Regions from separate parts of the Homo sapiens genome. Here region 1 is linked to region 2. Evidence: fine-mapped expression QTL. A gene starts in region 2. The other region holds a variant in brackets. All regions are shown on one strand. Distances are from middle to middle.

Region 1 (10,940 bases), 37 kb after region 2:
TTCCAGATCACCAGGGCCTCTCAGGGACAAGTTTGCCCTGTCTGTCACTAAATTGTTTGTCATGGTGAACTCTCGGGCATAAGAGAGGAGAGACTGGAACAGATACGAATTGCTCTTAATGAACCAAAACCCACAGCTTCAAAGGAAAATCCCAGAGGTAGACTCTCCAGGTGGGGTTGAGGAGACCAGCTCAGTCCCTCTTGAGTCTTTCTTTCCCCAAAGGGATATTTTAGTTCCAAAAGTGACAAGGTAACCAGATGGTATCCTCCAGGTGGAGAACAGCCCACAACTAGGAAGCAGAGTCTCATTCCTTGAGGAGGAAGAGGGGAGTGCTAGTACCCGGGGCTAGTGGAAGAGGGTAGGGTGTGGGCCCGGCTCGTTGTGGGGCAGCTGTTTACTTCACTGCAGCCTGCAGCCCTCCCATTTCCCTACAGCCCACCCAGGGCTGCGCTCAGCTCCAGTGAAGGTTTGTGCAGTTAGGATCTGAGAGTTTAAGCGTACTATATAGGTTTTACCTTTTTATTCTGGAAATTTGCAAATGTACACAAAAGTAAGGAAACTCTTATAATGGGTCCTTGTGTATCTACGCCTAGCTACAACTATCAATGGCTTATCTTATTTAATCTATCAACCTTTTAAAAAAAATCTTTTTGAGGTCAGGCACGGTGGCTCACGCTTGTAATCCCAGCACTTTGGGAGGCCGAGGCCGGCGGATCACCTGAGGTCAGGAGTTAGAGAACAGCCTGGCCAACACGGCGAAACCCGGTCTCTACTAAAAATACAAAAAATAACCGGGCGTGGTGGTGGACGCCTGTAATTCCAGCTATTCGGGAGGCTGAGGCAGGAGAATCGCTTGAACCCGGGAGACGGAGGTTGCAGTGAGCTGAAATAGCACCACTGCACTCCAGCCTGGGCGACGGAGCGAGACTCCGTCCCAAAAAGAATAAATAAATAAAAATAAAAAATATTTTTGGTAAGTATTCTTAGTATTTTAAAACAAATCCCAGCCATGACATCATCTTACCCGTTAATTAAATGGCACTAATTAAATGGTGCTTGAAATATTACAAACATCTATGTTCGACCATACCACCTAGAGTTCTGGGCAAGAAGGTTGGGACCCACAGGTCAAGCCTAGCCCCTTAGTTTTACCATGAAGATAACTCAGGCCGTCGGAGAAAGTGGCCTGCCCAACGCAGGTGCTAGAGCGCGAACCAAGAGAAGTCGATCCTCCTGGTCTCCCCGGCTGCCTGGTGAGTGGCAGACCACAGGCTAGACTTCCCAGGCCCCGGCCCTGGAAGGGGCGGGGAACCCTCCCCCTCACTGCCAGCTGGAAGAATCCGAGCGGTCCCCGCACGCACTTCTGGAAGTGCAAGCCGGTAGCGCGGCGGGCCAGGGATACAGCCAAGTCCCGGGACGTGCCAGCTGCGGTAACTGAAGCCGGGTCCCGGGCGGGCGGGGGTACCAGGGACAGGAGTAGCCTTGGAAAGAGGAGAGGGCCTCCTCCCACGACCGTCCGGATCACCGCCTCTCCGCCGGCACCCCCGGGGCCCATGCCGCGAACAGGCCGGCGAGGCTGGCAAGGTGCCCGGGCCCGGGGCGGAAAGCAGGAAGTCGATCCCGCGGGCGCGGCCCAGGGTGCGGCGCTGCAGATGCAGCACGGGGTCGCGGGGCGGGCGCCCAGTGCACCGGAGGAGGTGAGCGCCAGGTCGCCTTCGCGGCCCGGGGACACAGGCAGGGACGCGGGAGCTGATGCGGCTGGACCGGCCGGGGAAACAGTATTTTCTGGAAGGGGTAAGAGATGCTGTCTTGAGCCTTTGGAATCTCGGATCCGGGCCGCCCAGAGGACCTCGACAGGAGCACAGGGAGGACAAACTGAAGTCCGAGAGAGGCGGCGTGGCCTCCGGCCTCGGGGAGCGCTGCCGGGGGTCTCGGGCTTGGGAGAGGGCCTGGGGGCGGTGAAAATGGGGGGAAAGGAGGGGACCACAACATTGTTATGGAAGAGTGAGCTCGGATTGGCAGAGGGACGCGGGGCTGCAACGCGAGTCTCCGGAGGTGGAGGGGTCCAGGCTGATGTAGCGCCGCCCGGGTCCTGGGTCGGGGTTCCGGGAAGTGGACCTGCGAGCCAAGCCTAGCCAAGTCGGGGGACGGAGGCTCCGGGGCGGACGGAGCTGAGGGTGGGCAGGCGAGGTTGATGGAGCCCTTCCAGGAAGCAGGGCGAGGCTCAAGCACCCAGAAAAACCTGTGGCTGCCGAGGTCCCCCGCCAGCAGCGGGCAGCGGAGCGCAGGGGCGGGGCTGGGGACTGGCGAACTCCGCCTCTCTGGGGCTGTCGCTTTAAGGGCAAGGCGGGGCGTGCGGGCCCTTTAAGGCCACGTGGGGGCGTGTCAGGAAGTGAGTCCAGGGCCCGCCTCCCGGGGAGTCGGCCTCGGATGTCCGGAGGCTCCTGGGCTGAGCCGGCGACAGAGCCCGGGAAGGCAGCGAGACGTGGGCGCCGGCCCAGCCCCCTCCCGCGTCCTTCAGCCCCAAGCCCCGAGCCCCTCTGACCCTTCCGCAGCCCTCCCTCCAGCCGCGCCCGGCCTCCGGCAGCTCCCTGTACGCCTCCCTCCCCCTGCCCGCCCCTCCCTCCCACAGCCGCCCATGACGCCCTCTCGGCACCTCTTCCCACTCTGCCACGCGTCCTTTTCCTGCACCTTCGCCCCGCGTACCTACTCCTGCCCCGCCCTGCCATTCCTCTCCCCTCCCTTCTCTCTGCGACCCCTCCCTGTTAGGCCCCAGCCTCTTCTCCCCTCACAGGTCTTCTCTGTCCTGGCCTCACCGCCTTATCCTATTCCTCTCCCTTGCCCTGTGTCTTGTCTCAGAGCCCCCTCGGGGTGGGAGTAGGTTGTGGAGCAGCACAACTGGGCTCACCCCAAAGCAGAACTTCTCAATCCATGAGGACAATGGGGAGGCCTTTAGGCCAGCCCACATGTGACAATGGAGGGCTGCGGCTTCCTTGCGGAGAGCACAAGTGAGCTCACTGCCCTGGACTCCAGGGAATCAGAGTTCTGGCCGCGGGGTGACCCAGCTCCTCTGCTACCATGAATAGGGCCCCTCTGAAGCGGTCCAGGATCCTGCACATGGCGCTGACCGGGGCCTCAGACCCCTCTGCAGAGGCAGAGGCCAACGGGGAGAAGCCCTTTCTGCTGCGGGCATTGCAGATCGCGCTGGTGGTCTCCCTCTACTGGGTCACCTCCATCTCCATGGTGTTCCTTAATAAGTACCTGCTGGACAGCCCCTCCCTGCGGCTGGACACCCCCATCTTCGTCACCTTCTACCAGTGCCTGGTGACCACGCTGCTGTGCAAAGGCCTCAGCGCTCTGGCCGCCTGCTGCCCTGGTGCCGTGGACTTCCCCAGCTTGCGCCTGGACCTCAGGGTGGCCCGCAGCGTCCTGCCCCTGTCGGTGGTCTTCATCGGCATGATCACCTTCAATAACCTCTGCCTCAAGTACGTCGGTGTGGCCTTCTACAATGTGGGCCGCTCACTCACCACCGTCTTCAACGTGCTGCTCTCCTACCTGCTGCTCAAGCAGACCACCTCCTTCTATGCCCTGCTCACCTGCGGTATCATCATCGGTGAGTGGCAGCTGGGGCCACGGGGGATAGAGTGGTCATGGGGACTGAAGCAGTGAAGAACAACTCTTCTAGGCATCCTAGGACTTCATCTGTCCCAGCTCCTTTGGTGCAGCAGTCATAGGAGAAAGAGCCTGGGGGCACAGAGAGAGCAAGTAACTTACTAAAGGTCACCCAGCAAGTTAGGAGCCCAGCCGGGGCAAGAACAATAGTAATAATAATAGTAACAACAGCAGCAAAAGCAACTGACATTTGTTGAGTGATTAAAATGTGCCAGGCACATGGATCTTAGCCATATTAACTCAGCTAATCTTCATAACAAGATGGGATTATAATCCACATTTTACAGAGGGAAAAACCAAGGCACAGAGAAGTTAACTAACTTGTCCAAGATCACCCAGCTAATAAGTGGCAGAGCTGGGATCTGAACTCAAGCAATCTGGCTTCACAGTTCACATGCCCGACCACTGTACTTTATTGTTTCTCAAGAGCTCAGGTGTCCTGATTTCCCAGCCAGTGCTCTTAGTAGAGGACAATACGTCTTTTAATAAATATACCATCACTCTCTGCCAGCTCAGGATAGCGCCTGAGACAGTAGCAAGCAATATGCTTTGAGAGGCCTCAGCTGTCTTCCTGGACTTGACCCTCAGAAAATAATAATTATTGATGGGGAAATTATGCTAATTATTTCACATATAGCATCTCCTTTGTTCTCCCAGAGATCCCCTGGGTTGTGGCATCACTACCAGCGGTCATCTCTATACAAACAAGGAAACTGAGGCTCAGAGATGTTACATTACTTGCCCACGGCCACACAGCTAGCAAGCAGCCAGGCTGGGATGCAAACCCAGATTGGCCAGACTCCCAGGCCTGTGCTTCTATCCCCTCTGCTCGTCTTGGAGGTTAGAACTGCAGTATTCAATGCAGTAGCCATTGGCCACTTATTTAAATTAGTTAAAATTAAGCAAAATGTTAAACATTCACTTCCTCATTTGCAGATGTTACAACCT[G/C]ATTTTCTAGCCACATTTCAAGGGCTCAGTAGCCAAATGTGGCTGAGGGCTATGGTATGGGACAGCACAGGTTAGATGGGCCCATATTTTACTGGGCCCCATGCTGCGTTAGAGAGCCTCCAGCATCCCATTCCCTCCGAGTCTTCCCAGGGCTGCGTCATCTAGGAATGGGGTCTTCATTTGAACCTATGCTGGTTTTTCCTGGTGCTATAAAGTTTATCTTATTTGGCCTACATATCATATTCTTTGCTGATGGCTCAGGGTCCCAGGCTAGATGCACCGGTTGGTGGGGGAAGGGACCCATCCCATGCCACCTGTCCTAGAAAATGTTTCCCCTTGTTGAGCAGCTGCTGGATCTAGGGCTGCTGGGTCTAAGTCCAAGAGGGGAGAAGGGAGAAGGTCACAGTTAGAGTAGGGGAAGCTGCAAGACCCCCCCTGCCAGAACTCTCCCAGCCTGCTTCCATTTCCCTCTCCAGGGAACAGGTGTACCTCCCCTCCTCCCTGTCCTCCTCAGATGCCCCAGGGCTCTCTACTTCATTCCTGCTGACCCTGCCAGGAGTGGCCTCAGGGGTAGAGGCTCCTAGTTGGAGAATTTGCTTGCAGGAAGGTGAAGACACTAGGGTAACTGGGCCCAAATCCCAAAGGTAATCCAAGTAACCAGTGGTGAGGTTCTGAGAATGGTGCATTCACGGGCGTGCCTGACTGGGACAGGGGCCAGGGAGGTGGACGCTCTCTGCCAGCCCAGGACCTGGCTCCCTATCTGCAATGTTTCCTCTTTCTTCCTCCTTGTAGGGGAAGACGAGTCTCAGGCAACTATTCTAGGCCTCCCCTCCTAGCCCCCCATGTCACACAGTAACTTTCAAAGCTCCTTCTGGGCCAGGCACAGTGGCTCATGCCTGTAATCCCAGCACTTTGGGAGGCTGAGGCAGGTGGATCACCTGAGATCAGTAGTTCGAGACCAGCCTGGCCAACATGGTGAAACCCTGTCTCTACTAAAAATACAAAAAATTAGCCGGGCGTGGTGGCATGTGCCTGTAATCCCAGCTACTCGGGAGGCTGAGGCAGGATAATTGCTTGAACCCGGGAGGCAGAAGTTGCATTGAGCCAAGATCGCGCCACTGCATTCCAGCCTGGGCGACAGAGCAAGACACAGTCTCAAAAAAAAGTTCTTTCTGGGCAAGAGTCGCTCTAGAACATTGATGTTGCAGTTGCTTCTGGACTCAGAAGGTAACCACCAGGAGGGCTAGGGGTGCTGTAGCCAAGCAGGTGAGTGGGTGGTGCAGCCCTCTGCCCCCCTCACCCTACCCCCAGCAGGTCTGTGGGTACCCCTTGTGCAAAGGTTCTGTCAAGAAAGAGGAGGGTCGGGCTCTGTGGTTGGGCTGGGCATGGTGGCTCATGCCTGTAATCCCAGCACTTGGGGAGGCTGAGGCGGGCAGATCACCTGAGGTCAAGAGTTCAAGACCAGCTTGGCCAACATGGTGAAGCCCCCTCTCTACTGAAAATACAAAAATTAGCCAGGCATGGTGGCGCATCCCTGTAATCCCAGCTACTCAAGAGGCTGAGGCACGAGAATCGCTTGAACCCAGGAGGCGAAGGTTGCAGTGAGCCAAGATCGCACCACTGTACTCCAGCCAGGGTGACACAGCGAGACTCCGTCTCAAAAAACAAAGAGAAAAAGAGAAGAGTGCTGTGTGTTGAGTGCCTATGATGTAGGAAGTATCCTGTCTCCTTTAATACAACCACCTCCATAACAACTTTCATTCATTCATTCCACGACTAGTAATTGGTGGCTAAACACATGCCAGGCACCATGCCAGGCTTTGGGGATACAAGTTTGGAAAAGGTAACCTCAGCTCCTACACTCCTGGAGGGCATGGTGGTGACAGTTACGCTAGCATAGTAAGGGCTGTGATGGGGCATGCATAAAAGGGGCTGTGGGAGCTCTGGGCAAGGGAGGGGACCCGGGGACAGGGCAGTCTAAGCAGGCCTTCTGGAGGAAGTTTAGAAACTGGGTTTAGAGGAAGAAGTAGGGACAGAACATTCTAGATAGAAGGAAGAGCACGTGCACTTCTTCATGGCTGGGCCACAGCAAGACTCACCAGACACAAGGCTGCCCAGTCAGGCCGACTCCACGTGGTGCAGGTCCTAAGAGCTGTGGTGAGTGAGTGGAATTTCTCCTGAAGGCAGTGGAGAGCCACAGAGAGGCTTCACACCAGGGCACAGCCTGGACCGATCTGGACTTCAGGATGATCATATCAGTTGCAAGGTGGAGAGTAGATTGGCTGGAGTGGAGGACAGGGAGGTGACCCAGAGAGCTCAGAGTGGTTAAGTAACTTCTCCCAGGCCACTCAGCTTCTAAATTGCAGAGCCTGATTGGAGGCTAAATCCCTCTGACCCCAAAACTTTCCCCACTGCCCCGTGTTGCCAGATGCTGTGGCAGGAAGTATAACATGCATTGTTCAGCCCCTGGCTTCTGGGAGCATGGGATCTGGCTAAAAAGACCAGACTGTCACCATGGGCAGGGGCCCAGCAGCCCAGAGCAGGCAAGGGGCTTTGCAGGAAAGCGAGGCAGTAAGAGTCCAGGTTCTGGGATTATCAGGAAAGGATTCCCCAGGAGAAGCCAACTTTGACCTTGACAGATGAGTAGAATCCCCCAGAAAGGAGGAGGGTGTTTCTGGCACAGGACATGAACAAGGACACTGAGGCCCAGGGTGAGAAGCAGGGAGACGAGCAGGGAAGCTGGGGCGACCATAGGACAGAGGAAGGGCCTGCACCCCCGCCTGCCACGCCAAGGAGTGTAGTCCTCATGGCAGAAGTGGGGAGCCACGGAAGCTCTTTGAGCAGGAAGTGACACAAGATGAGAGTCTCAGAGTCACTGCCCCAAATGACACAAGAGATTCTAACTTAATGTGCCCCATGATGACATCATAGGCTCCCATTCCATGCAAGAAGCAGCCAAGGCTTAGACACTGGAAGTCATTTACGCAGGGTCACCTTAAATCACATTAACCACTAAGTGGCACTCATTCTTCAGAACTCAGTTCAACTGTTATTTTCAGATGCCCCAGGCCAGCACAGTCGCCCACTTACAGGCTCTCACAGCACCTTGTACTACTTTATGGACCTCATTACAATTCTTACAATTGTAATTAAAGAAGTAACTGGGAAGATTTGTTTTAATGTCTTTCTCCTCTGCTAGCAGATAAGCTGCCAGAGGAGGTTTTCTTGCCCTGGGCGGCTCCCATAGTTCATGTGGAGTGCTTTGCCTGCAGTGGAGACTCTGGCTGTGCTTATTGGAGGGAGGCCTGGGGAGGAACGGGGAGGGCCGCAATACTCAGTCTGTGAAATTTGGTGTCTGATCCTCTGTCCTTCTTCCTCCTCGTCCTCATCCCTCTTCCTCACCCTTCCCCACTCCTCCTCTCCCCACTGCAGGGGGCTTCTGGCTTGGTGTGGACCAGGAGGGGGCAGAAGGCACCCTGTCGTGGCTGGGCACCGTCTTCGGCGTGCTGGCTAGCCTCTGTGTCTCGCTCAACGCCATCTACACCACGAAGGTGCTCCCGGCGGTGGACGGCAGCATCTGGCGCCTGACTTTCTACAACAACGTCAACGCCTGCATCCTCTTCCTGCCCCTGCTCCTGCTGCTCGGGGAGCTTCAGGCCCTGCGTGACTTTGCCCAGCTGGGCAGTGCCCACTTCTGGGGGATGATGACGCTGGGCGGCCTGTTTGGCTTTGCCATCGGCTACGTGACAGGACTGCAGATCAAGTTCACCAGTCCGCTGACCCACAATGTGTCGGGCACGGCCAAGGCCTGTGCCCAGACAGTGCTGGCCGTGCTCTACTACGAGGAGACCAAGAGCTTCCTCTGGTGGACGAGCAACATGATGGTGCTGGGCGGCTCCTCCGCCTACACCTGGGTCAGGGGCTGGGAGATGAAGAAGACTCCGGAGGAGCCCAGCCCCAAAGACAGCGAGAAGAGCGCCATGGGGGTGTGAGCACCACAGGCACCCTGGATGGCCCGGCCCCGGGGCCCGTACACAGGCGGGGCCAGCACAGTAGTGAAGGCGGTCTCCTGGACCCCAGAAGCGTGCTGTGGTGTGGACTGGGTGCTACTTATAGACCCAATCAGAATACGGTGGTTGAGAAGGAACCAGTGTTTACAAGTAATATCAGAAAGTTGAAGGAACCAGTGTTTACAAGTAATACCAGAAAGTTGCCAAACCCTTCTCTATCCTCTCGTATTTCTGAGTTTTTGTCCTTCCCGAGGGAGCACCCTAGTGAGAGTTGAACCCCTTCCTTCTGCCTCCAGGGCCTGTCTGCCTCCACATCACTCTGAGGACAGGGACAGGCAACAACCTTGAAGGGACAGCAATGGCAAAGCCACAAAGGCTTCACTGTACTCAGGGGAGATGGCCCTACCACAGCCACCTGGAGAGGGTTGGGAAGCCTTCCGTCTGCGGTGGGCAGGCAGCCTCACCCTGGGCCCACAGACCGGCCTTCCTTTGGAGGAAAGTGTGGCCTGGACTGAGGGAGGAAATGAGCGAGTTCCCTCTGACACCAGCAGATCCCCAGGGGCTGCTGGGCAGTGGCCTGGGAATGGGGTGGATTGTGAGAAAGTGCTCACCATCTATACACCCTGTATGTCCAGCTTTTGAACACAAGGGAACCATGCTTCTCTTAGAGGTTAAGCAGGGTCATTAACATCCTCCCCCAGTCCCTAACATCACATTGTCCTGCGTGGCTCCTCTGGCCCTGAGTGGCACCTGTCCCTCTGGTCTCCCAGCACCTGGCCCAGGTAACAGCCTTCTGAAAGCAGAGCCAAGGAGCTGCTTCTCTCTTCTCCCAGTTCTACCTCCCCAGAAGCCTTCCTCCCCAGGTGGGGCTGATGGAGCAAGGGTCCAGACTAGGAGCCTTCCACCCCAGCTGTGTCTGGCGCCCCTAGATCTCTGCAAGGGAGGTGTTACAGCTGGTTCTGAGCCGCTTGCCTTGTGATGGTAAGACACCAACCTTTACATTCTTCCCTGAGGTTGTGGCTGACAGAGCCTGCTTGGCCCCACTGTTAGTCCAGCGAGCTCCTATATCAAAATGCCGTAGGCCGGGTGGCTTACAAACAACAGAAACGTATTGCTCACAGTCCTGGGGGGCTGGGACGCCCAAGATCAAGAGGCCAGCAGATTCGGACTCCGCTGAGGGCTGTTTCCCGATCCATAGATGGTGCCTTCTCGCTGTATCCTCAATGGTAGAAGCACAAACAAGCAAGCTCCTTCCTGCCTCTTTTATAAGGACTCCAACCCTGTTCATGAGGGTTCCGCCCCCATGACCCAATCAGCTCCAAAGGCCCCACCTCCTAATACTGTCACCTTGGGGGTGAGAATTCCAATGTGAATTTGCAGGGGGAGTGGGGGACACACACAAATTTCGGGGCCATACCACCCTTCACCACACCCTCCTGCGCTCAGGGTGGCTTGCAGTCCCTGGCCCTTCTGGTGGGCATTTGGTATGTCCTTTCTCTTGGGGTGATTTCTGATGTTTTTACTCTATATAGTGAAAAGCTAGGGAGAGCGGGTCTTCTCCCCCCTCCCTCTCCAGTCCCCTCACAATCCCAGATGGGTTCTAATGCAGCTGCTGGGGCCTGATGCCCTGAGTTGTTTGTGATTCAATAAAGAATCCATAAGATCCTGTGTGTGTGGCCTGAGGGAAGAGGCAGCAGGGCTGGAGAGGATTTGTGAACAGGGCCTGGGGGTGGAGGGGAGGTTGGGACCTGTCAGAGGCAGCAGGGCTGAAGAAGGTTTGTGAACAGGGCCCTGGGGTGGAGGGGAGCTGGGGATCTGTCAGGAAGGAGGGCTCATCCCTGCCTTCACCAAGCCCACCCACCAGCAGGCAGCCTTTCTAGGAGCTGGTTCTTTCTAAGGATACCAGGCTCCTTCCTGGAAGGTAGGTGACCAGACTTGAAGTTTCCTATTAGTCGTAATTGCCATTTACTGGATGCTTGTTGGGGGCCATAGGCTGTGCTGAGTGTTGTACATCCACCCTTGTGAAGTTGAGAAGTTGTGAAGTTCATCTTCACAACTCCCCGTGGCCCCTTAGGTGGGAGCCGTCACTGATCTGTTTTTTTTACACATGAGGACACTGAGGCTCAGAGAGGGCCCCAGGAAGGAAGAGGCAGGAGGAGGATTCAGAGTTCTGTGCCTTCAGAGCTTGGTACTTAACTCTACCCCAGCATTCTGAGTCCAATACCCAGCACTGTTTTTTGTTTTTTTTTTTTAACAGAGTCTTGCTGTGTCACTCAGGGCTGGAGTGCAATGGCGCGGTCTTGGCCCACT
Region 2 (9,903 bases):
AGTGAGCTGAGATCAATCTACTGCACTCCAGTCTGGGCGACAAAGCAAGACTTCATCTAAAAAAAAAAAAAAGTGAGAGAATAAATGTTTGTTGCTTTAAGCCCCCACGTTTGTGATGCTGTTTTACAGCAGCAATAGGGAACTCCTGCGTCTTCCCAGCCAGCATCCCCAACACCTCTCCTCAGGCCAAGCCCTATTTCTCTTGAGGCTCTGTGCTGTTCAGTGACACTAACCTGCCCCCCAGCCAGCCAGCCTTGGCCCATCAGCACATTCTGTCTCCAGCCTCTGAGATTGGTGCAGGGACGGTATGTGACCTGACCTGAGGCCATGAGACCTGAGACATTTGCTGCCAGCTCCTGAGAAAGAAGCTTCCTCGCTTCCAGAACAAACACTCTCTCTCCTGTTAGACCCGAACAAGGACGCCATCGTGCTCCAATGAGGGTCTGAGAATACATGGATAAGCAGACTGTTTCTCCCACTATACACTCACAGTGGGCTTCTTACACCAGATGGGTGTTTGGGGAGGCGTTCCCACATAGTAAGCAAGCAATCAATTACGCAGCAGACACCAGTTCGGTGTCCTCTAATTCAGTTCACTTCCCCACCTGGAGATAGCGTCAGGTTCCACAGGCTAAGGACTCAGTCCCCAAGATGCTCCCCTTCTCCCGATGCCAATCACAAGTCCCAGAGTATTTTAGCTGTGCTTCTGACCAACTGACTATAATTGAGGTTCCCACAATCCCCTCATTGGTTGGATTAATTTGCTAGAGCAGCTCACAGAACTCAGGGAAACACGTTGACTCACTTATTATAAAGGATACCACAGAGGACACAGATGGGCAATGCATAGGGCAAGGTATGGGGGAGCAGAGCGCCATCCTCCAGGAGCCCCGTGTGTCCAGCTGTCCAGAAGCTCTCCAGACCCTGTCCTTCAGGGTTTTTATGGAGGCTTCATTACACAGGCGTGATTGATTAAGCCATCGGCCATTGGTGATCAACGTAACTTCCAGCCCCTCTCCCCTCTAAGAGAGAATGGGAGTGGGGCTGAAAGCCCCAGTCCTCTAATCCTGCCTTGAACTTTCTGGAGTAGCCCCCATCCTCAAGCTACCTAGGGGCTGCCAGCCAACTGTCAACTCATTAGCATACAAAAAGACACTTACCACTTTGGAGATTCCATAGATTTTAGGAGTAACATGCCAGGAAATGTGGACAACAACTCAATATGTATTTTACGATATCACAAAGGGGAGCCAGCCTCCAGATGAAACCAGCAAAATGGGACCCAGAGTGGAGAGACAAGGACACTGGTCCAGGGGCTACTGATTCAAGCCTCACCTGAAACCCACATCACCTCCAGACTTCTGAGCTATGTGAGCCGCTAATTCCTTCTTGGGTTTAAGCCAGCGAAGTTTCAGCTCTCTACTCCTTGAGACTGAAAGAGTTGACTAACTCCTGTGAGGCTGGATCCATGAAAACAAAGGCTGTCATCATGATCAGGGCTCTCATCCTATCTCAGCTCCATTTCCCTCTGGGTTGGTTTTGCCCTTAGGCAGGCCCTGCTTTCCTAGTGACAAGATAACACCTAAAATCCAAATTCAGCTTAGCAATCCCCCTGGAAAGAAAGTATGTCTTTTATACCAGTCAGGTGTCTGCTGCACCAATGCCATGCAACAAGCACTCTGAAAATCTCAGTTGCTTATAACAACCATTCCTTTCATACTCATGGGTCTGCAGGTTAGTTGGGGGGTTGTTAATATCAGAGTTAGGCTGGACTCCAGTCTCTGGTTAGGTTCAATTTGCCCCACAGTCTCCATCCTGGACTCCAGATGAAGGTGCCATGGTCGCCTGGGTGTACCTTCCTTTCTCATGGTGGGCAGGAGCTCTAGAGGGGCAAGCGGAAACACAAGATACTTCTTTAAGGCCTAGCTTGGAACCCACACATCATCACTTCTACCGACATTCCATTGACCAAAGCAAGTCAGTGGCTGAGCTCACCATGGATGGTGTGGGGAAGAATATTCACCCACAGTGAACCATGCAAGGGAGGGAGGGAATGAAGAAGCCTCAGCAAAACTCCATCAAACACGTCTTCCTCAACAGTGCCTCAAAGATCTTGGAACTGACTCATTGGCCTGGCCTGGGGTCAATGCCTGAGGGAGGTAGGAGTAAGGGTACAGCTAGGGGTCTCCCATATGGGAAGAAGGGTTATTTCCCAAATGGAAGTCAAGGTGTTGCTGACACAAGAAAGGGCAATGGATCCCACATAGGCAATGAATAAATAATTACATAAACCAGCACTCAGCAAACGGCAACGTGAAAATAAATCACCTGAGATGCTATTACAATGCAGATTCTGAGAGCCAGGCATGGTGGCTCCGACTGTAGTCCCAGCTACTAGGGAGGCTGAGGCTGGAGGATCTCTCAAGCCCAGGAGTTCGAGGCTGCAGCAAGCCACAATCGCACCACTGCACTCCAGCCTGGAAGACAGAGCAAAATCTCATCTCTTTAAAGAAAAAAAATTCATTTAATAAAAAATAATGCAGCTTCTGATTCAGTAGGTCCAGGGTGGGGCCTGAGATGCTGCATTTCTTTTTTTTTTTTTTTTTTTTTGAGACGGAGTCTTGCTCTGTCACGCAGGCTGGAGTACAGTGGCGTGATCTCGGCTCAGTGCAACCTCCGCCTCCCAGGTTCAGCAATTCTCCTACCTCAGCCTCCTGAGTAGCTGGGATTACAGGCACGCACCACCATGCCCAGCTAATTTTTAGAGACGGGGTTTCACCATGTTGGTCAGGCTGGTCTCAAACTCCTGATCTCATGATCCACACGCCTTGGCCTCCCAAAGTGCTGGGATTACAAGCGTGAGCCACCGAGCCCAGCTGAGATGCTGCACGTCTAAACAGTCCCAGATGATGCTAGCAAGGACCAGTAGCAATGAGCAAGACTGAAATTGGGAGAGTCTCTCAGCCTTCTGATGCCACATTCTCATTTACAAAATGATAATTCCACCTGCCACACAGACTTTTCTCAGCCAGGAAGATGGTGCCCTCGGGGGGATAAGGTGATGCGACATTTGTGCTGTCACTCACCTCCTGCCTGCCCCCTGCACCTCGAGGCCTCCCTCAGCCCCCAGGAAAGGACTCACAGCCCAGCCAGCAAGGAGACAGGAGGAAGATATCACAAAGTGAGTGCAGCTTCTGTTAACTGCCTTAAGCTGCTCCCTGCAATAATGTTGGTGTAATCCATAAGATTCAATTATGGTTATCAGACAATTAGGCACACCACAGCGAGGTTATTGCATAATTAATGCTCAGTCCCCATCTCAGCCTCTGAGAGTGACACAGGTTACAAGATTCACCTGCCCCGCATCTGGGAGAGGAGCAGGGGCACCCAGGATGGGGAATGACCTCCCTGTGGGCTCAGAGGAGGATGTTCTTAGGACCCCAGAGGCATGGCAAAGGGACAGTGTGTGGCTGAAAGAGCTTGAGTCAGTGTGTGCCCAGGGCCCTCACGCCTGCCATTGTGTTTAGGACTTGGGCTTTAATCTCTGGAGCGAGATTCAAATCCTGCCTCAACTACTGATTGGCTATATGGCATTAAGCACTCGCCTTACATTTTTAAAGCCTCCATCTCCTTGTCTTTTAAAGAAGGGAATTGATGATGTTATGAAAACTGGATGAGAGAGTTTGCATATTGGTTAGATGGTTCCTGCAGTACTATTTTCATTATTTCCCTCTCTGAGCCTCAGTGTCTTCATCTGTAAAATGGGAATAATTAGCCTCACCTTGCCTAGGCTTGAAAGATCAGCCGGTAGTTTGAGACCTGCCTGGGCAATATAGCAAGACCCTGTTCACCACAAAAAAGGAAAAAAAAAAGGATGAAAGATCAGTTTGTGAGTCAAGTAAGACACACATGTGAACGGGATGTGTGGAGTGCTTTGCTAACGCGCCATTGTCTTAGTTACTATGTGCCTGGTTTTCTGCTCAACCCTCCAGGGTACGACTTTGTACAAGTCCCCAGGTCTCAACAGGACAGTGGGTGATCAGCCCACCTGAGAAGTGAAACTCATGATTTGGGTGAGTAGACTAGAGGAGAATCACTTCTTTCTTTCTTTTTTTTTAGACGGAGTCTCGCTGTGTCACCCAGGGATCTCAGCTCACTGCAACCTCTGCCTCACCGGTTCCAGTGATTCTCCTGCCTCAGCCCCCCGAGTAGCTGGGATTACAGGCACACGCCACCACACCTGGCTAATTTGTTATTATTAGTAGAAACGGGGTTTCACCATGTTAGCCAGGCTGGTCTTGAACTCTTGACCTCAGACGATCCACCTGCCTCAGCCTCCCAAAGTGCTGGGATTACAGGCATGAGCCACCATGCCCGGCCTGAGAATCATTTCTTGAGCTATGATCTGTAACATTCAAATGAGCCTCAACGGACACAAAACAGAAAAATCATCAAAAATGTCGGTGAAAAGTTCAGGTGGGAGAACTCAGGTGATGGTGCAGACAGAAGCAAGTAGGGGAGAAAGCTGGCTTCAGGGAGAGTGGTTAGGCCTTTGTGAGAAAGACTGGGGACTTCTCATATCATCCTCTGTGTCCCAGTTCCCAAAACACACACGCACATGGGCACATGCATGCAGGCACACAAAAACAAGCCCATACACCAGACGAAAAAATACAGATGCAGGTACACACACATGGACATGGACATGTGTGTGCCTGTGCCCATATAAACAAACATTAGTGCACACACACACTCACACACACACAGGCTCGGGCAGTATGTGCTCACACACAACCATACACACAGATACGCACAGAGGTACATTCACACACAGACCAACACACACAGGCACACAGATGCATGCACGCATGCACGTGCGCGCACACACACACACACGTGCACCCACCCTCAGTGATAACCTTCCAATCCACTGGCCTCTCCGAAATTAGCACAGACCATTTTCCCACGACCCTTTCTCGCTGAGCGTGTGATTCCAAAACTGTCCACAAGAAGGTGCTCGGGAGCCAGAATTCAGGCGTTCCCGGCCCGCGGACGCTTAGAGAGGGGAGCTTCGGAGTTATGGGGGGACCCACCCTTCCATTTAATAACTGAGAAAGCCACGGGAGGGGACTTGCTGGGCTCACAGCCAGTGATCCCTGCCCTGTTTCCTTATGGGGACTGCGGTCAGAAATGGGGAGTGGGGCAGAAACTGTCACTGTCACGGTCCTGTTTAGAGAGGAAGGTCGGAGAAACCAGTGCCGTGGAAGGCTCTGGGGCGTTGACAGGCGCTGTCCCCAGCTCACCGGCTCTATGACCCTGGGTAAGTTACCTGGCTTCTCTGTTCCTCAGTTTTCTCGTCTTCCCTGACCCAGGCTTTCCCGACTCCTCTAGGGGCCCCTTCCCCTCTCCATGAACACCTTCAGATCTCGGACTGTTTTCTCCACTCAAGTGGCATCTCAGCTATCCCCTCCCGGGTTAGGCCTCCCTGGCCCCTATTTAACGGTGTCCCCACCCCCACCACTATCTTGTTTGTACCAACACTTGCTGCCTGACAATGCACACTTGTTCATTTGTTCACGTTTATTTTGTCTTCTCCAGAAGAATGGAAACTTCGTCAGAGCAGGGACGTGAGGGTGAACTGCTCACCCGGGCACCGCTGGCGACCGGAACCCAGCTCCCTCCGGGCTCCGGGAGAGGCGGCCTCAGCTGTGTGCTGGTGCTGCCCTCCAGCGGCGCTGGGTCCCCATGGCACCTGGCTTTCTCCTGCTCCCCAGGGGCCTTTTCTTCTCCCGCCCACCTGTCACCAGCCGCCAGGGCAAGTCTCTGTGTGACTCTAGGGTGAAGGTGGAGGGACCTTGCCTCCGAGGATTCATCCCACCCGGATTCCGATGAGTGAGGGACCCTCTCTGGCACCTGGTGTTTGAATGGCCAGCCTCACAGTTAATAAAGACAAGTTTGGTATCAGCTGTGGGATCCGTCCAGAAAAAGACACCTTTGGGGCAGAAATATAATGGTGCCTGTCTCGACATAGTCTAATAAGGAAAGAAAGACAAGCCAGTCCAACGGTCCCATTTTACACATGAGGTCACTTCATCCCCACCTAGGACAGGAGGGTACAACGGCCTGGCCTAAGATAACCCTAGAATATGGTCACTCATTCTTCCACCCACTGAGAACCTCAGGGCAGTAGAGTTTTATGCAAAGCATGTGGTCCTGAAAAACTTGCATAATTCAAAGCGTGCATAATTTCTGACTAATTTTGCCAGAGAAATGAATGCAAAGTAGAAAGGATAGGTTGCATACATTACTCCAATTGTGGCATATTTTTGCCTTAATGCTGCTTTTTATTTCCCTGGCATTATCGCTAATATTTCATAACGCACTCTCTGCTAAATTAACAGTGCAGCATTTCCTGCCGGTGGTTTGGCCTTCTTCATAACGTTTTATCACATCTCACTTCCTTTCCAATGTTATCGATTTTCAGGTGCGTTTTTCAGCACCACCACTTAAAGAACACTTGGATGACATTGTTACAGGATATGGGTAAAATATTTAAAGTTATAATAACTGTGAACATTGAGAAAATGGCACACCAGTCACCAGAATCTCCTGCAGAAATTAGAAATTCAGAGGCATGTAAACAACAGTGCATGCATATAGAAAGCAGGTATTTCTATTTAATAACCAAAGCAACGTCGCCATGTGGCAGGTTTACAGTCCTCATTTAACAGCTCACTTAGTTCCTCCGACTCAAGGAAACTGCAATTCTTGACAGGTTTTTTTTTAACTGAGGGGCTTGGCATTATTTCCAGCTTAGTGCATAAACATGTATTAGCATTTTTATATTGCACCTTGCCAAAGTCACAGTTTAGACTCCCATAAACAGTGACTTCACCCTAAATGGTCACCCTAAATGGTTAAGGCTGTGTCCTTAACCCCAGAAGGGTGGAAATGTATGACTCCACCTAGTCATCTCAGATACGGATTTCAGAAATCTCAGCCACCCACCTCATACTTACACAGGGACCTTTTTGGAGGCAGCATCATCTGAGGCCGCTCTTGCCCAATTTGGCTGGCCCCACCTCCTCCCCAACGTCATCTTCTCTTGCAGTCTAGAGAGGGGGGCTACTCCCCCAATATAGCATCCATATTTAGATCCATGTTGGAGGGTGGGTAGAAAGGGGAGGTAGGATGAGGGAAAATTGAGTCTCAGTTTCACACATTTGTAAGATCGTCAGACTTTCCACATTGCCAAGAAACTCGTCAGCACAACCGCTGTGAATTGGCTTCTTGGCCTTCGTCTGCCCAGAATTGCTTCCAGAATGGCTCCTTCAGCTTGGCCTGAGCTTGGCCCCAGAAAGAGTGCCACGGGCCCTAGGAAGGAGGAAAAGTGGGGCATTCAGGGCAGGCTCTGAACCCACTTGGATTCCAGTCCTGATTCCATTTGCATGTGACCTTGAGCAAGTCTCTATGCAAGGCACTTCACCTTTCTGGGCCTCAGTTTCCACCTCTGTCAAATGGGGATAATAATACCATCTACTTCCCAGAATTGGTGCCAGAATGAAAAGCAGTCCCTGCTGTGATAGTGTCTAGAACAGAGTAAGTGCCCAATAAATATTCCTTCGCTCTTGTTGCAGTTAGAAAAGCGACTGGATGAGGCGTACATTTACTGGTACCCTGGGATGTATAAGGGCCAGTGTCCGGGTGAGGCGATCCTGCCCCTCGGAGAATTTATGGTCCAACTTTGGAGAGTGAACCTGCCCTCCCACTAATTCAAGAATTCACCAGCCAGGAGAACTGCATGTGGAATTGCCCGGTCCAGCCCTGACTTTGCGCAAGTGTCCATCAAGTCTCCTTCTGCCTCTGGGCTGCCTCTGAGACTTGAGGGGGAGTAAACAGGAGCCTAGGGGTCTCTCCACCCTCCAGGTGCCCCATCAGGCCGGCACCTCCCCACCAGCCCACCCCTCCCCTTGCAGCAGCAAATCTGCAAATGTGCCTTGCAAGCATGTCCAGTGGGCCAGAAGCCACACTCATCCTCCCCACCCCTTCAGAGGACAGCAGAGGTGCCTGGCCCAAAGGCGGTGGTTGGAGCCTGGGCTTCCTGCCTGGGGTGGGGTGGAGAGGGATCTGCCTTCTCTTCTGGGCCCCTGCCCCCCAGGTTTTTCTTCCTCGATACTCACGTTCCTTTCCCTGGACAATCCCTTGCTCTATGAGGGCCTCAGCTTTCCCCTCTGAAAAATGGGCAGCCTGGACTTCTCCAGCTCCTCCAGCTAAGACATTCATCTCCCTATCTCCACACCAGCCTCGCCGCCAACACCCCGGTCCCTCTCTCTCTCCTCTGCTGTTGTGGGGGCCTGTCCCTGGGGTCACTGAGGCTACTGCTGGCTGGGCTCCCAAGCACCAGAGAAGGACTCCACAGAACAATAGCAGAAGGAAGGGGGCCATTCTTCAGGAGGAGAGAATGAAATGGCCTAGCTCAGCCATGCCTGCCCTAGGTCCAAAGCCCCCAGCTCCATTCCTGCCTCTTCTGCCATGTTCCCATGTTTCTACATATGCATGTCTCCCACCAGACAAGGTGGTCCTGAGAGCAGGAGACACCCAGGCTATCCTCGCTGTATGCCTAGCACCTGGGTGCTGGGACCTGTTTCCTGGTCGGACAGAATGGGCGCCCACCCAGCAGGTGCAAGGATGGTAATGTTTTCCCGGCCTGTAGCCTGAATTCCAAGTGTCCACTCAGGGCCAAACCATGCAGTCAGAAAAGGATTCTCACTGGGCAAGTGGCTCAGGCCTATAATCCCAACACTTTGGGAGGCCAAGGCAGGTGGATCACTTGAGGCCAGGAGTTCGAGACCAGCCTGACCAACATGGCAAAACCCCCTCTCTACTAAAAATACAAAAATTAGCCGGGCATGGTGGCAGGCACTTGTAGTCCCAGCTACTCGGGAGGCTGAGGCAGGAGAATCGCTTGAACCCAGGAGGTGTAATTTGCAGTGACCCGAGATCGCGCCACTGCGCTCCAGCTTGGGTGACAGAGCAAGAATCTCTCTCAAAAAACAAAGCAAAAAGAAAGGACTCTCACAGTGAATAACCTAAGTCTACAAAAATAAAAGAAAGGACTCTACCTCAGGCCCACACTTCCCTCCCCTCTCTGCCTCCCTTCCCCTCTCCCCCAAGCCCCTCTTCTGCTTGCCTCCAGCCTCCCACCTAGAGACTCAGTCATTTCTGGCTCTTTCTGACCCTGCTTTAGAATGAGAAAAAATATGGGGAAGCAGGGGCTTTTGATCATAAGGACAGGGGAAAGGAGATGGGATCCTTATCATGGCCTAGCTTCCGGCAAGATGTCTAAAACTCACATAGAATTGTCTCCTAGGGGAAATCACCCACCTGCATAATTTTCATATCCAATAATACTATAAGAGTGTCTATGTCCTTCCTACCTTGAGTTACATTTCTAAAAATCTTTATCATGTGAGTCACGAAAGGTGCCAGCTGCCAATAAGTGTGCATGGGGAGAGGACAGATAGCTGGGAGTAGAGATTTATGTTGCCTGATAATACTAAAGAATTGCTATACTCAGTTTCATCAAACCCAGGTCCTAATGTCAGCCTGAAATTCTTCCTCCTCCAGGAAGCCCTTCTGGACTGGGAGGGAAAGTCTATGATACAAGAAACAGTGTCTGATGTTTCCCAGATCCACCTTTTTTTCTCCTGTACCACGCCCACCACCTAGACAGCCCTTTCTCCATAGGTGTCCAAATGCCCCGAGTCTGTCAGTGCCAGGCTTGCATGCCATTATTTCCCAGATGAAAGTGACTACCCCCCTGTTAGGACCCAAGCACTTCCTACCCTGGCCTGTGATCACAGGTCCTAGGAGAATTGCTCAGCAATGGGAGGGAGGACACGT

What was found.
Region 1: its variant is fine-mapped to the expression of LINC02716 in putamen (GTEx, PIP 0.98). The same link has a PIP of 0.9 or more in subcutaneous fat.

What each region holds. Positions count from the first base shown.
Region 1 is chr11:45,802,724-45,813,663 of GRCh38, forward strand. SLC35C1 (solute carrier family 35 member C1) reads left to right here and starts at 2,426. Exons shown (of 2, transcript NM_018389.5): 1 at 2,426-3,613; 2 at 8,053-10,293. The coding sequence starts at 3,079. The coding sequence ends at 8,612. RefSeq lists enhancers at 1,221-1,380, 4,645-4,704 and silencers at 1,551-1,720, 2,451-2,680. The variant G/C (reference allele first, on the strand shown) is at 4,621.
Region 2 is chr11:45,766,395-45,776,297 of GRCh38, forward strand. LINC02716 (long intergenic non-protein coding RNA 2716) reads left to right here and starts at 5,038. Exons shown (of 2, transcript NR_027134.1): 1 at 5,038-5,320; 2 at 5,599-5,964. RefSeq lists an enhancer at 4,730-5,231.